Linked DNA regions of Homo sapiens. The protein of the gene in region 3 purifies or fractionates together with the protein of the main gene of each other region. This does not show direct contact. Each region holds a gene or a part of one and is shown on either strand. Other genes may lie near its edges.

Region 1 (2,404 bases), on a different chromosome or scaffold from region 3:
TGGGGTCCACCTAGACATGGCTCTGGCCAGCTCTCCTGCCGCTTCCAGAATTCTCTGGAGAATGTGACCCTGTGATTATCACACCAAACCTCACTTCAGATCCTCCAGGAATGGTTACAAATTGTCCAGACGTGGTGGAGAATAGGACACCGCCCTTGTGCTTAAGGACATGCAATAATGATGTCATCTGCCAGGTAGAACATTACAGGGTGGTTTACAGGCACTTAAAGCAGCACGACCTTGGGCGAGTCGGTAAGCTCTCCCAGCCCTGTTCCCCTCCTCACCCGGAAAGTGTGAACTCTACCTGGCTCAGATCCAGGGTGCTACGAAGGGGATATCCTACACTCCTTGGCTGAATCCAGGATGCCCAGCTCTTTAGGGGCCAGATGTCAAGGTCTGCAGGCTTCTCCCTGCCTGCTGCTCCCGAGGTCCAGCTCCTCGACCCTGCCCGGAGCACCCCTCCTACACCCATCTCCCCTCCAGCCACACTCAAGTCAAGGTCAGAAGTAAAAGATTTTTATTGTTCTATAGACACTTCTGAAAAGAGATCTAATTGAGAAAATATACAAAGCATTTAAGAGTTTCATCCCCAGAGACTGACTGAAGGCGTTACAGCCCTCCTCTCCAAGGCTCAGGGCTGAGAACGGTTAGCATATCGAATGATCAGTAAAAACATGCAAAAGTGAGAAGGAAAGGGAAAAAGGTGCATTCCCCTAAGCTGAGGGGGATGGAATTTCAGAACAGAGGAGGCAGGGTGGACAAGTACCAGGTGGCTCTCCCTTTCCCTCTGTGTTATCTTTCAAAACAGTTCCAAGCTTGGAGAAAGCAATGAGCTCCACCTACTCAGCAGAACCCACGGCTCGTCCCCCGTGGACGTGACTGAGCAGTGACCTTGCCTGCCCCGTTCCTCAGCCGCCCATCCCACTGCCTTGACTGAGGGGACCCTGCTTGTGCTCCTGGGGGGCAGGACTGGGGGTCCTAGCTCCTTGCTTCTTTGGTTCCACTCAGAGAACAGTTGTGCTTGACGGACTCATCCCCACTCCCCAAACTCCAAGCTCCTGCTGGTGGGCTGAAGGCACTGACAGAGTCCCTGGGACACCCCCAGGTAGCCACCTTCTCTTGTGCTCTGGTGGGTCCCTCCCTGGGCACATCGTCCCATCCTCAGCTCAAGCCCCAGGTCTAGGAATAGGGACAGTGAAGAAAGTGTACCCTCCAAGAAAAAGCTTCTGAGGACTTTTCTAATTGTGCAGATACTTCTGAAGCCCATGCCGCCCCGCCCCCACAGCCCCATCCCCTTGCCCAGGGCCTCACATGCCCGGCTCCCCCAACCGGTCCTTCCCCTTGGGCTGCCGGTGCAGCTGTGGGCCCAGGCTTTGGCAGGCCCAGCTTCAAGACAGTGGGACACAGAAAACACTTTGCAGCATCGCCTCTCCCTCCGCCACACCCAGGTCAGCAGAGATGGGCCCCCCACCGAGAGATCACAGCTCTGGTACAGGGAGGTGGGCAGGGTTGGAGAGGAATGGAGAGACATGTCACCTCTATAGAAACGCGTCCAAAGTACAAGCTAAGCAGGGGGAAGGAGGAGGGCCAGAGAGCAGCCGGAAAGAAGAAAAGAGGAACACGGCAGGGGGTTCTGGGGGAGGAGGGCCTCACACCACCCCGCAGATGAGCGTCTCCACCACGAAGGTGTTCTCGAAGTGGCGGATGGCATTGCAGTTCTTGGCCCCACGCTTGTTGATCCCTGGGAGGAAAAAGAAAAACCCCAGTGAGCCCTGCATCCTGGCTGAGTCACAAAGACCACCAGCCTCAGCCTGAGCCACAGGAGGGCCAGGAAGTGACACCATTCACCCAGATTCACCCAAAGAGCACAGTGAGAAATGGGGAGAGCTCGAAAGCTGGAGTCAGCCTGCCCATGTCTGCCACCTCCCTGCTGTGTGACCTCCAGGGTGTTAACCTCTCTGCACCTGTTTCCTCATCTTTAAAATGGGCAGCAAAAATAATAATGAGGATGAGAATGACTTACACTCTTAAGAGGTCATAAAGAGCACACAGCATTGCCCGGCACACGGAAGTGCTCTGCTAATGCTAGCTGTTATTGCTGCTGCTATCTGAGCTCTCTGACAGCTGGGCTAGGCGTGAAGATAACTGTGGTCTGGGGCACGGGACAGGGGCTACTGTGGGTGAAGCCAGCCACTCACGCCTCCGCGTTGCCCGGCGCCGGAGCCGGTAGGTGTCTTTCCCGTTGCACAGGTGGTAGATGAAGGACCCCAGGGCCTCCTTGTCACTGACATGCTCCGTGACCACCATCTCCTCCTGGATGATGTACGTCTGCGGCAGGTAGGTCCCCCTCTGCAAAACAAGGTGGCCGCCACAGTGAGTCGGCCCCTCAGGCTTTCGTCCAACC
Region 2 (3,500 bases), on a different chromosome or scaffold from region 3:
TGCTGGATGGCAAACTGCATTATCTCGTAATCTTCATCTTGCAAATGCACATTTCTGCCATTGTCTTGAACATAGTAAGATTCGGGAATTTCAAACACAGATTGATCAACCTCAAAGTTTGTGATGTGGGAAGCTGAAACAAAAGGCAACCGTCCAGTGTCTGAGTTCATTACATTTCCACTCCAACTTTTTGCAAAAATGTTGTACATTAGAAAAAAAAGAAAGGCTCAAAATTATAACAATCAAGGCTTACTATTATATGAGAGATTCTGAGGAAGCATGACAGAAAAAAGTGACAGAATACAGCTTTTTTCTTTTTCCTTGATTTTAGTGGAAACAACGAACACAGTCATAAAAAAATACACAAGACTATAAAATGAAAAGCGCAGATTTCTCCCCCTAAACATATACGCACAGTCACACCAATGTGTTTCTTCCTTTTGCAGGAAGATATATGGTAAATATATAAAAGTATATATAAAATATCTGAACACTTAAAAATGATAATAATTAAACAAATGCCTGTGTGCCCTTCACCTAGCCTAAGACACAGAACACTATCAATAACTGCCGGGCGCGGTGGCTCACGCCTGTAGTCCCAGCACTTTGGGAGGCTGAGGCAGGCAGATCACAAGGTCAGGAGATCGAGACCATCTTGGCTAACATGGTGAAACCCCGTCTCTACTAAAAATACAAAAAAAAAAAAAAATTAGCCGGGCGTGGTGGCGGGCACCTGTAGTCCCAGCTACTCGGGAGGCTGAGGCAGGAGAATGGCATGAACCCGGGAGGCGGAGCTTGCAGTGAGCCAAGATCGCACCACTGCACTCCAGCCTGGGTGACAGAGTAAGACTGTCTCAAAAAAAAAAAAAAAAAAGAAAAAGAAAAAAACACTATCAATACCATACTGCGGGCACATCCCTTGTTAACAATATTCCCTTCTTCCTCTCCAGAGGTAAATACATAATTCAGAATAGTTGTTTACACTGCCTAGCTCTTCTCTGGAGCTTGCCACATGTATATCATCCTAATAGTTTGTATTAGCCTGTTTGTGAACTCGACATAAATGGAATCATGCGGAATTTATTCTTCAAATTGGATTTTCTTCATTCAACATTATGCTTTTGAAATTCAACAGTTTTGACGCACATAGCTATAAATTTTTATTTTCAATACTATATGTTATTCTGTTGTATTAATAGAGCACAATAGCGCATTCTACCATCTCGGGACATTTGGGTCGTTTCCAGGTTTCTGCTGTTATGAATGGATGCTGCTGCCCAGTACTGGGGTCTCCAGATGCTCATGTGCATAACTTTCTTTAGGGTACACATCTAGGAATTGCTAGGTCATCCACATCTTCAGTTTATACAGTAATGCCGAATGTTTTATTCAAGGAACTATACCAATCTCCTCTTCCAGCCAAGAGTGCACGAGTGTTCCTTAGCTGCACAACCTCATGAACACATCTCACCCAACTTTGTTGCTACATGGGAATGTAAAGGTGTATATTATTGTCGAGTTCAATTGTTTTTATTTGAAGTCTTAATTTATATACATTAAAATGCTATCTTTTAATTCCTCCTACTGGTAGACTACAGGGGAGAAACATAGGACCATCATGATAGTTGCAGAAAACACATCTCACAAAAATCAATACTTAAAAATGGTAATAACTCTCAGCAAACTAGAAATATAAGAGAATAATGTCCTCCAACTAATAAGGGACATTTATAAAAAACCTACACAGCTAACATCATACCTAATGGCACAACAATCCTTCCTCCCCTAGAACCAGGAACAAGACAAGGACAGCCATTCCTACCACTCTTACTCAACATTGTACTAGATGTCCTAGCCAGTCCAGTAAGTCAAGAAAAAGAAATGAAAAGCTTAAAGATTAGAAAGGAAAAAGTAAAATTTTCTTTATTAATAGACAACATGACCATATATGTAAGAAATTCTAAGAAATCTACAAAAAAGTGTAAGACAAGTAAATTCAGCCATGTTACAAGATAAACAAGGTCAATCCTGGCCATGCAATTGTGTAAGAAAAAAAAAAGATAAAAAATTTTTAAAAACGATTCAAGGTCAAAATACAAAACTCAATTATATTTCTATATACTAGTAACTGGAAATGAAATTAAGAAAATAAGTCCATTTACAATTGCATCTAAAATCATGAATTGTATTGATGGCAAAGGAGTGTAAGGAAATTTGGGGGCATATGGAAATGCTGTCTACCTTGACTATGGTGGTGGTTACACAGATGCATACATTTGTCAAAATGTGGCTGGGTATGGTGGCTCACACTAGCACTTTGGGAGGCCGAGCTGGGTGGATCACTTGAGGTCAGGAGTTCCAGACCAGCCTAGCCAACATGGTGAAACCCAGTCTCTAATAAAAATACAAAAATCAGCCAGGCATGGTGGCACGCACCTGTATTCCCAGCTACTTGGGAGACTAGGCAAGAAAATCGCTTGAGCCTGGGAGGCAGAGGCTGCAGTGAGCAGAGATTGTGCCACTGCATGCCAGCCTAGGTGACAGAGTGAGACTCTGAGAAAAAAAAAAAAAATGCACTGAACCATCACACTTAAAATGAGAGCATTTTATTGTATGTACATTACACCTCAATAAAGCTGATTTTTAAGAACATCCTTTCTTTTTAATATAACTAGGATCATATATATTCTACAAGTTTTTTTTTGCTTAATCTAAACTAAATCTGAAATTTTCTTTCATCCAACACAGACATCTACTCCCTCAGATATTCCAGCTTCAGAGTGAATTATGAATATGATGACTGAATTATAATTTTTTTTTTTTGAGATGTAGTTTTGCTCTTGTTGCCCAGGCTGGAGTGCAATGGTACAATCTCGGCTCACAGCAACCTCCATCCCCCCGCCTCTCCCCCAGTTCAAGCGATTCTCCTGCCTCAGCCTCTCGAGTAGCTGGGATTACAGGCATGCGCCACCACACCCGGCTAATTTTTGTATTATTAGTAGAGACAGGGTTTCTCCATGTTGGTCAGGCTGGTCTCAAACTCCCGACCTCAGGTGATCCACCCACCTCGGCCTCCCAAAGTGCTGGGATTACAGGCATAAGCCACCACGTCCGGCCATAAATTTTTTTTTAAATAACAAAACTAAACTTTGTATTTATTTATTTTTTTACCTGAATCAGCCTGGGTCCCTTCCACATTTTGAGATACAGATTCTTCGGCAGTGCTACAGCCATTAACATTTCCAAATGTAATCCGTGCATTTAAGACATGAAACAAGGGAATTTCTAACAAACAAAATAAAAACTTTTATAAGTAAACTTTACTGAGAATAACAATAATAGTTATCATTTACTAAGTGCTTACTATGCCAAGTACTTTGATAAGTATAATTTTATTTAAGCCTCATAACAACCCTTCCCAATACACAGACGGGAAAACTGAGATTGAGAGTTGTGTATTTTCGGTCAGGCGCGGTGGCTTACACCTGTAATCCCAGCAC
Region 3 (3,500 bases):
CTGGGCAACATAGCAAGACATTGCCTCTACTAAAATTCAACAAAGAAAAAGAAAATTAGCCAGGTGTGGTGGTGCACACCTGTAGTTCCAGCTACTCATGAGGCTGAGGGGGAAGAATCGCTTGACACAGGGAGATGGAGGTCGCAGTGAGCTATGACTGTGCTACTGTACTCCAGCCCAGGCAATGGGGCAAGACCCTGTCTCAAAAAAAAAAAAAAATTCTTTTTTAATAGAAAACTGAGGATTTGACAGGAAAAAACATATCAAGAATGACCCATATAATGCTGAATCAAAAACTTTTGCTAATGTTTCCTAATAGGCTGGGTCCCGAGGAAATGAACGGCGAGCTTCATGAGGTCTATTCATCTGTGATAATAATAATAATAAACTCAATTCTTACTATGTGACAGATATTGTGCTAAGTGCCTTACACGTATTTTCTTTTTCAATCCTCACTGCTCTAAGAGGTAGCTACTATTACTACTCCCATTTTACAATTGAGGACACTGAGGCTTAGGGAAGTTGAGTATAAACATCATGGGTAGTGGGTGGAGAACCAAGATGCCAACTCAAGTCTGTTGAAGTTCAAAGTCCATGATCTTTTTTGTTTGTTTTTGGTTTTTTGTTTGTTGTTGCTGTTATTGTTGTTTGAGACAGGGTCTCACTCCCATCACCCAGGCTGGAAGGCAGTGGCATGATCTCGGCTCACTGCAGCCTCAACTTCCTGAGCTCAGGTGATCCTCTCACCTCAGCCTCCCAAGTAGCTGGGACTACAGGTGCGTGCCACAATGCATGTCTAATTATTTTTGTATTATTAGTAGGGACAAGGTTTTGTCATGTTGCCCAAGCTGATCTTGAACTCATGGGATCAAGTGATCCACCTGTGTCAGTCTCCCAAACTGCTGGGATTACAGGCATGAGCCACCACACCTGGCCTCATGATCTTATTCACTATGTTATTCTGCCTCCTCTGTCTATTCTCACTGCTTAGCATAGTACCTGGCCTGTAGTAAGCACTTGGTAATATTTGTTGAATGGATGGAGTGTAATAGTATGGGATTATGGCACCGTTATAAAATTGAGCAATTATTGACATACTCACCAATTCTTAGATATGTGTACATGGCCTTACATTGTTTTAGAAGCTAATAGGTGGGTCTTTAAAGACTCAAACTCCATTCTTAATGTTGACACGTTATTTTTGTATGGTATCATTCCCCCCAAGCTAGGATGACATCATGTTACTATTATCACCATTTTTCAAGCATCAATAACATGCTTTATGTAGAACACATTTTTAGATCCAAAACCTTTTTCAAATCTAATTAGTGTGATCTACATCCTGCTTTTGCATTTCTTTTGCATGGTGAATCATCTCTGAATCTAATGTTCCTTTTCATTTATAATTGTTGAGACATTTACATTATGCATTTTACGGACTCTTATGGTTAGAAAAAGCTTTTAGAGATACATCTCCAATCATTTCATTTCACCAATAAAAAAGAAAAGATGGCTTGAAATAATCATTTCAAAATAACTCCTTTATTTAGAGTACTTGTTATGTACCAGCCCCTGGGCCAAGTGCTTATCTATTCTTATTTAACAATCCAATGAGGCATATACTATTACTAACCCAATTTTGCAGAGAAGGAAACTGAGGCATGGTGATTGGCTCACATGGCTAGTAGACAGTAGAGCCAGAATATGAATCAAGGTCCATCCAGTTCTAAAACTGAGCTTTCAATTAGCACCCTACATGATGTATCCAGGGTCACTTACCTGTTAGAGACAAAGCTGAGGCTAGAAATCAAGTCTGTTACATTCCAGAGCAGCCTTTACTTCATTAGACCACTTTGTTTTCATTAATGTTTTTAAGTACAATAGTATTTCTGACAGAAGCAACCAAATGTTTTCAATGGCTCCCAAAGTATGCATAGAGAAATGTGGGTGCTCCCAGGCCGGGCGCGGTGGCTCACGCCTGTAATCCCAGCACTTTGGGAGGCCGATGTGGGTGGATCACAAGGTCAGGAGTTCAAGACCAGCCTGGCCCAAATGGTGAAACCCTGTCTCTACTAAATATACAAAAATTAGCTGGGTGTGGTGGCGGGCGCCTGTAATCCCAGCTACTCAGGAGGCTGAGGCAGGAGAATCGCTTGAACCCGGGAGGTGGAGGTTGTGGTGAGCCAATATCATGCCACTGCACTCCAGCCTGGGTGACAGAGTAAGACTCTGTCTCAAAAAAAAAAAAAAAAAGAAAGAAAGAAAGAAATGTGGGTGCTCCCAGACTCAAGTTTTGTTTTGTTTTGATTTTGTTTTTGCTTGAAACAGGTTCTTGCTCTGTCACCCAGGGTGGAGTGCAGTGGGGCGATCACAGCTCACTGCAGCCTCAACCTCCAGGGCTCAGGAGATCTTCCCACCTCAGCCTCCCAAGTAGCTGAGACTACAAGTGTGCACCACCACACCCAGCAAATTTTCGGATTTTTGGATTTTTTCTTTCTTTTTCTTTTCTTTTCTTTCTTTCTTTTTTTTTTTTTTTTTTTTTAAGAGATGAGGTCTCACGTCTCAAACTCCTGGGCTCAAGCAATCTGCCCACCTCGGCCTTCCAAAGTGCTGGGATTACAGGTGTGAGCCACCACGCCTGGCCCAGACTCAGAGAATGAATACAATTGTTTCTGGAATGAACAGTGACCCATCCCTGGAGCAAGAAGCAACACTTACATAGATAATAGAGAGAACTCCATTGTAGTTTTTGGTTGAAACATTGAGGACAATCTTTAGCTGTGAGACCAGCACTTGGAAGGCAGCAGCTGTTGTGAAGCCACCAACCAAAGGATCTGCCAAGTACCTCACTATGAATCCAATCTGCAAGCCACCAAATATCAACTACGATAAGGAAAAGGAAAGAAAAATTAAATGTTTGCCTGAGATAGAAACCTACTCTCTGGAAATATTACATCAAGCTTAATACCAATGAAAACACTAGTAGCCTGCCTATAGCACAAAAATACTGGTAGAAAAAAATATGAATTTCTTAATACCCTATCACTCCCCTTCCTCCACCACTCTAAAATTTGAAAACTAAGTGTAATAAAAACCTTGAAGTATTTCTATACATGTACTTAGAAAAGCAAAAACCCAGAGCTTATTTATGTGGCTTTCGGTCCTGTGTCTCCGCTCACCAGAACACTTTTTCTCCTTTATGGATTCCCGTATATTTCCCTTCTCTCATCCTCAATTGAATCACACATGTTCTTCTGTGCTTTTTTCTGTCTCTGACTTTGATGATAAGTGAGCCTTAATAAGTGGGGTCTTGCTTACTATTTTAGCACCTGACCTAAAACAACGTAATTTAGAAAATAATTTTGGGTTCCAGGAAATTACTTTGTTTTGTTTTTAGTAGAATCTTTAAGTCTATATGCTTTAAAGTTAATTTCAAATAAAAATTACATCCATCTATATTTTACTTGTAAGTTCATTACCTGTATAATTCCAACCAGCAG
Region 4 (3,500 bases), on a different chromosome or scaffold from region 3:
CCTGTTTCTCAGGACTGTGCATTTCCAAGAGGAAGGGCTGTCAGGCCTTCTCCCTGCCCTCTCCCCACACAGGCGAGCCCCCAGCCAGGCACACAGTAGGTGTTTTTTAGTGATCAGGTCCATCCTTCTGCCCTAAGGCAGGACTGCTCTCACACTTCTCCTCCAGAGTCCCAAGAGAACCCTCAGAACTCTATGGAACCCCCCCAAAAAAGAATCTGTCCTCCTTGGGAGCCATTCCTTTGGCCCAAACACAGGTAGGGGACCTCAGGTAATTCCAGCCCCCCGCCCCTAGTCCTGTCCCCACGCACCTGCCGCTGAGACTCATAGAGGATGCGGTCCATGGTGTTAAGCAGTGTCATGCTCTTGTAGAGCTTCAGCACCTTCTCCTTCGGCAGCTGCGGGTGGAGGCACAGATAGACGTGGGGCAGTTGGGACCAGAGAGGAGACAGGCAAGGGGCCTGGGCGTGGGGGGCACGGGAAGTGGGGGAGGCCGCCTCTCACGTGGGGGTCCTCGCTGGGGTTGATGATCTGGCCTTGCCGGTCCATGACGCGGTAGATGGGGATTCCAGAGATGACGTTGGGCTGGATGAATTCCAACTTATCTATAAACTCCGCCGAGGCCCCTGGGAACTGGGGCTTGTCATCCAGAGATGAAAACTGCTGCTGCTGCCTGGGGGGGTGCTGGGGAAGAGAGCAGAGGAGACCACCTGCATCAGAAGCAGCACCCAGGTTTCCGCTGGCTCAGCCCCGGCGGCAGGCAGGCGGCATGGTGGTTGAGCATGTGGCCCCAGTGAACTCTGGGGCCTGACTCACAGGGTCTGAGCCCCAACTCCAGCACTTTCTCACTGCGACACTTTGGATAACTGACTACAACTTCTGTGTCTCAGTTTCCCCATCTGAAAAACTGGGATGAAAACAGTTAACACCTATCCCATAGGACTGTTGTGAGGTTAAATGACTCAATCAAGTGGCTGGCAAGTCAATAACTGGTAGCTATTACTATTCTCATTACCATAGGCCCAAACTCTTCATCCTGGCATTCGAGGCCTCCCCATTCTGGCCACAGATGCCCCCTCCTCTCTCTCTCCCACTGTGACCACAGACACACATGCCCACTGCAGGATGCCCTCTAGGCATACAGACCAGCTCTCTTCTGATCCCTATACCATACACCAGCGAAGCTACTCAGGACAGAGCTTAAGTCTTTGAGCTCTTAAGAGTCAGACTGCCTAGGTTCAATTCCCTTACTGCCTTTAGGAGGCAGAGGCAGGCGAATCTCACTTGAGGTCAGGAGTTCGAGATCAATGTGGCCAACATGGCGAAACCCTGTACCCACTAAAAATAGAAAAATTAGCCGGATGTGGTGGCACATGCCTGTAGTCCCAGCTACTCAGGAGGCTGAGGCAAGAGAATCACTTGAACCCGGGAGGTGGGGGTTGCAGTGAGCCGAGATTGCGCCATAGCACTCTAGCCTGGTGACAGTGAGACTCCATCTCAAAAAAAAAAAAAAAAAAAAAAATCCCTTAGAGGGTGATATGGCAAAGTAACTTCCCCTCTCCACGTGTCCCCTTCCTTGTCTATAAAAATGGAGAACCCCTCATGGAAATGAGAGGCTTAAACAAGATCACATGAATAAAATGTTCAGCAAAGCATCTGTAAGCCACCTAACAAATGCTCAAAACAATCTTAGCAATTCTCATTTCTCCCTCTCATCTCTGCTTGCTTTACAAGAAGGTCTCTTTCCCTATCGCCTGGCAAACTGCTACATACGCTTCAGTGTCCACTCTACTCTGGTCCCAGCTCCCTCTGCGAGCCCAGACTGACTCATTCAACAAATATTTGAGCACCTGACATGTTCCAAGCCCTGTGCTGGGTTCTGGGGACCTAAGACAGGCAAGATATCTGTCCTTGCTGCCTAGCAGGGAGGGCAGACACTAAACAAGTAACAATGATGGTGGTTCATATTATCCTATAGCAGAAGAAAGCGAGGGTAAGGCTTCCCTGGGGAAGTGATGTTAGAGCTGAAACCTGAGGGATAACCAGGAGGCAGGGAAAGCACATTCTCGGCAAGGTGTATAGAACATGCAAAAGACAAAAAGTGGCCAGGCACAGTGGCTTATGCCTGTAATCCCAACACTTCGGGAGGCTGAGACCAGCCTGGCCAACATGGTGAAACCCCATGTCTACCAAAAATACAAAAATTAGCTGGGCGTGGTTGCGCACACCTGTAATCCCAGCTACTCAAGAGGCTGAGGCAGGAGAATCACTTGAATCCGGGAAGCGGAGGTTGCAATAAGCCCAGATTGCACCAACACATCCCAGCCTGGGCAACAGAGACCCTGCCACACACACAAAAAAAGACAAAAGGCAAGGAATAGTGTGTCCTTCATGGAAGACAGAAGGAGCTCAGGGCCTGGCAAGGTGGCTCATATCTGTAATCCCAACACTTTGGGCTCAAGGATTACTTGAGCCCAGGTGAGCCCAGGAGTTCAAGACCAGCCTGAGATCACATCTCTACAAAAAATTTTAAAAATTACTCAAGCATGGTAACATACACCTATAGTCCCAGCTACTTGGAAGGCTGAGGTGGGAGAATCGCTTGACCCCAGGAGGTGGAGGCTGCAGTAAGCCATGATCACACCACTGCACTCCAGCCTGGGCAACAGAGCAACATGCTGTCTCAAACAAAAAAAAAAGCTCAGAGGGGCTGGAGGAGTCCTGCAAGGACATCACACCTCCTCAGGTCAGATGAGGAATGGCTGAGAAAGCCCAGGAGACCTGTGAGAAGCCTATAAATGCTCAAAGGGATATGAACCCACTGGGACTCTTAGCTCTGGAGCTAGGCAGCCTAGAACCAGCCGAGGCGTTGCAATAGCTCCCCCTTATGAAGCACCTGCTGTAAGCCAGCTGAGCCTGGCAGGCACAAGCCTACTAACTCCTCGGGGAATTTGTGAGGTTGATTATCTGCCATTGCCCTTGAGTAGATGAGGAAACCGAGGCCTGGGGAGGTAAAATAACCTGCACCAAACCACAAATTTAAAAAAAAAAAAAAAAAGGTGGGGATGCTGGGCAGTGGCTTACGCCTGTAATCCTAGCACTTTGGAAGGCCAAGGCAGGAGGATCACATGAGCTCAGGAGTTTGAGACCAGCCTGGGCAACAGTGAGAAACCCTGTCTCCACAAAAAAATACAAACATTAGAAAGGCATGGTGACACATGCCTGTGGTCCCAGCTACTTGGGAGGCTGAGGCAGGAGGACTGCTTGAACCTGGAAGGATGAGGCTGTAGTGAGCTGAGACTGTGCCACTGCACTCCAGCCTGGGGGACAAAGTGAGACCCTGTCTCAAAAAAAAAAAAAAAAAAAAAAATTACATCAGAACTGGGCTTCCAACGCTGAGATTCAGGCTCCTAGACATCCATGCTCCTCACCCCAACTGCCCCTGCAGCCTGATTTTCAAACATCTGCAACTTTTCTTCCCACTACTCCCGGGATTCCTCCGA

Evidence for each region.
Region 1: the proteins of SLC26A4 (region 3) and ITM2C purify together in Homo sapiens (affinity purification with mass spectrometry; one large-scale study listed by BioGRID and IntAct). This does not show direct contact.
Region 2: the proteins of SLC26A4 (region 3) and ANKRD13A purify together in Homo sapiens (affinity purification with mass spectrometry; one large-scale study listed by BioGRID and IntAct). This does not show direct contact.
Region 4: the proteins of SLC26A4 (region 3) and BCKDHA purify together in Homo sapiens (affinity purification with mass spectrometry; one large-scale study listed by BioGRID and IntAct). This does not show direct contact.

What each region holds. Positions count from the first base shown.
Region 1 is NC_000002.12:230,877,345-230,879,748, reverse strand, and holds the end of ITM2C (integral membrane protein 2C), read right to left. Parts: intron 2,350-2,404; coding exon 2,199-2,349; intron 1,742-2,198; coding exon 1,650-1,741; 3' UTR 501-1,649; downstream 1-500. UniProt on the Homo sapiens protein: Negative regulator of amyloid-beta peptide production. May inhibit the processing of APP by blocking its access to alpha- and beta-secretase.
Region 2 is NC_000012.12:110,030,430-110,033,929, reverse strand, and holds part of ANKRD13A (ankyrin repeat domain-containing protein 13A), read right to left. Parts: intron 3,286-3,500; coding exon 3,172-3,285; intron 1,484-3,171; exon of another isoform or gene 1,220-1,483; intron 134-1,219; coding exon 1-133. UniProt on the Homo sapiens protein: Ubiquitin-binding protein that specifically recognizes and binds 'Lys-63'-linked ubiquitin. Does not bind 'Lys-48'-linked ubiquitin.
Region 3 is NC_000007.14:107,674,328-107,677,827, reverse strand, and holds part of SLC26A4 (pendrin), read right to left. Parts: coding exon 3,480-3,500; intron 2,884-3,479; coding exon 2,719-2,883; intron 1-2,718. UniProt on the Homo sapiens protein: Sodium-independent transporter of chloride and iodide. Mediates electroneutral chloride-bicarbonate, chloride-iodide and chloride-formate exchange with 1:1 stoichiometry. Mediates electroneutral iodide-bicarbonate exchange.
Region 4 is NC_000019.10:41,407,818-41,411,317, reverse strand, and holds part of BCKDHA (2-oxoisovalerate dehydrogenase subunit alpha, mitochondrial isoform 1 precursor), read right to left. Parts: intron 682-3,500; coding exon 502-681; intron 396-501; coding exon 309-395; intron 1-308. UniProt on the Homo sapiens protein: Together with BCKDHB forms the heterotetrameric E1 subunit of the mitochondrial branched-chain alpha-ketoacid dehydrogenase (BCKD) complex.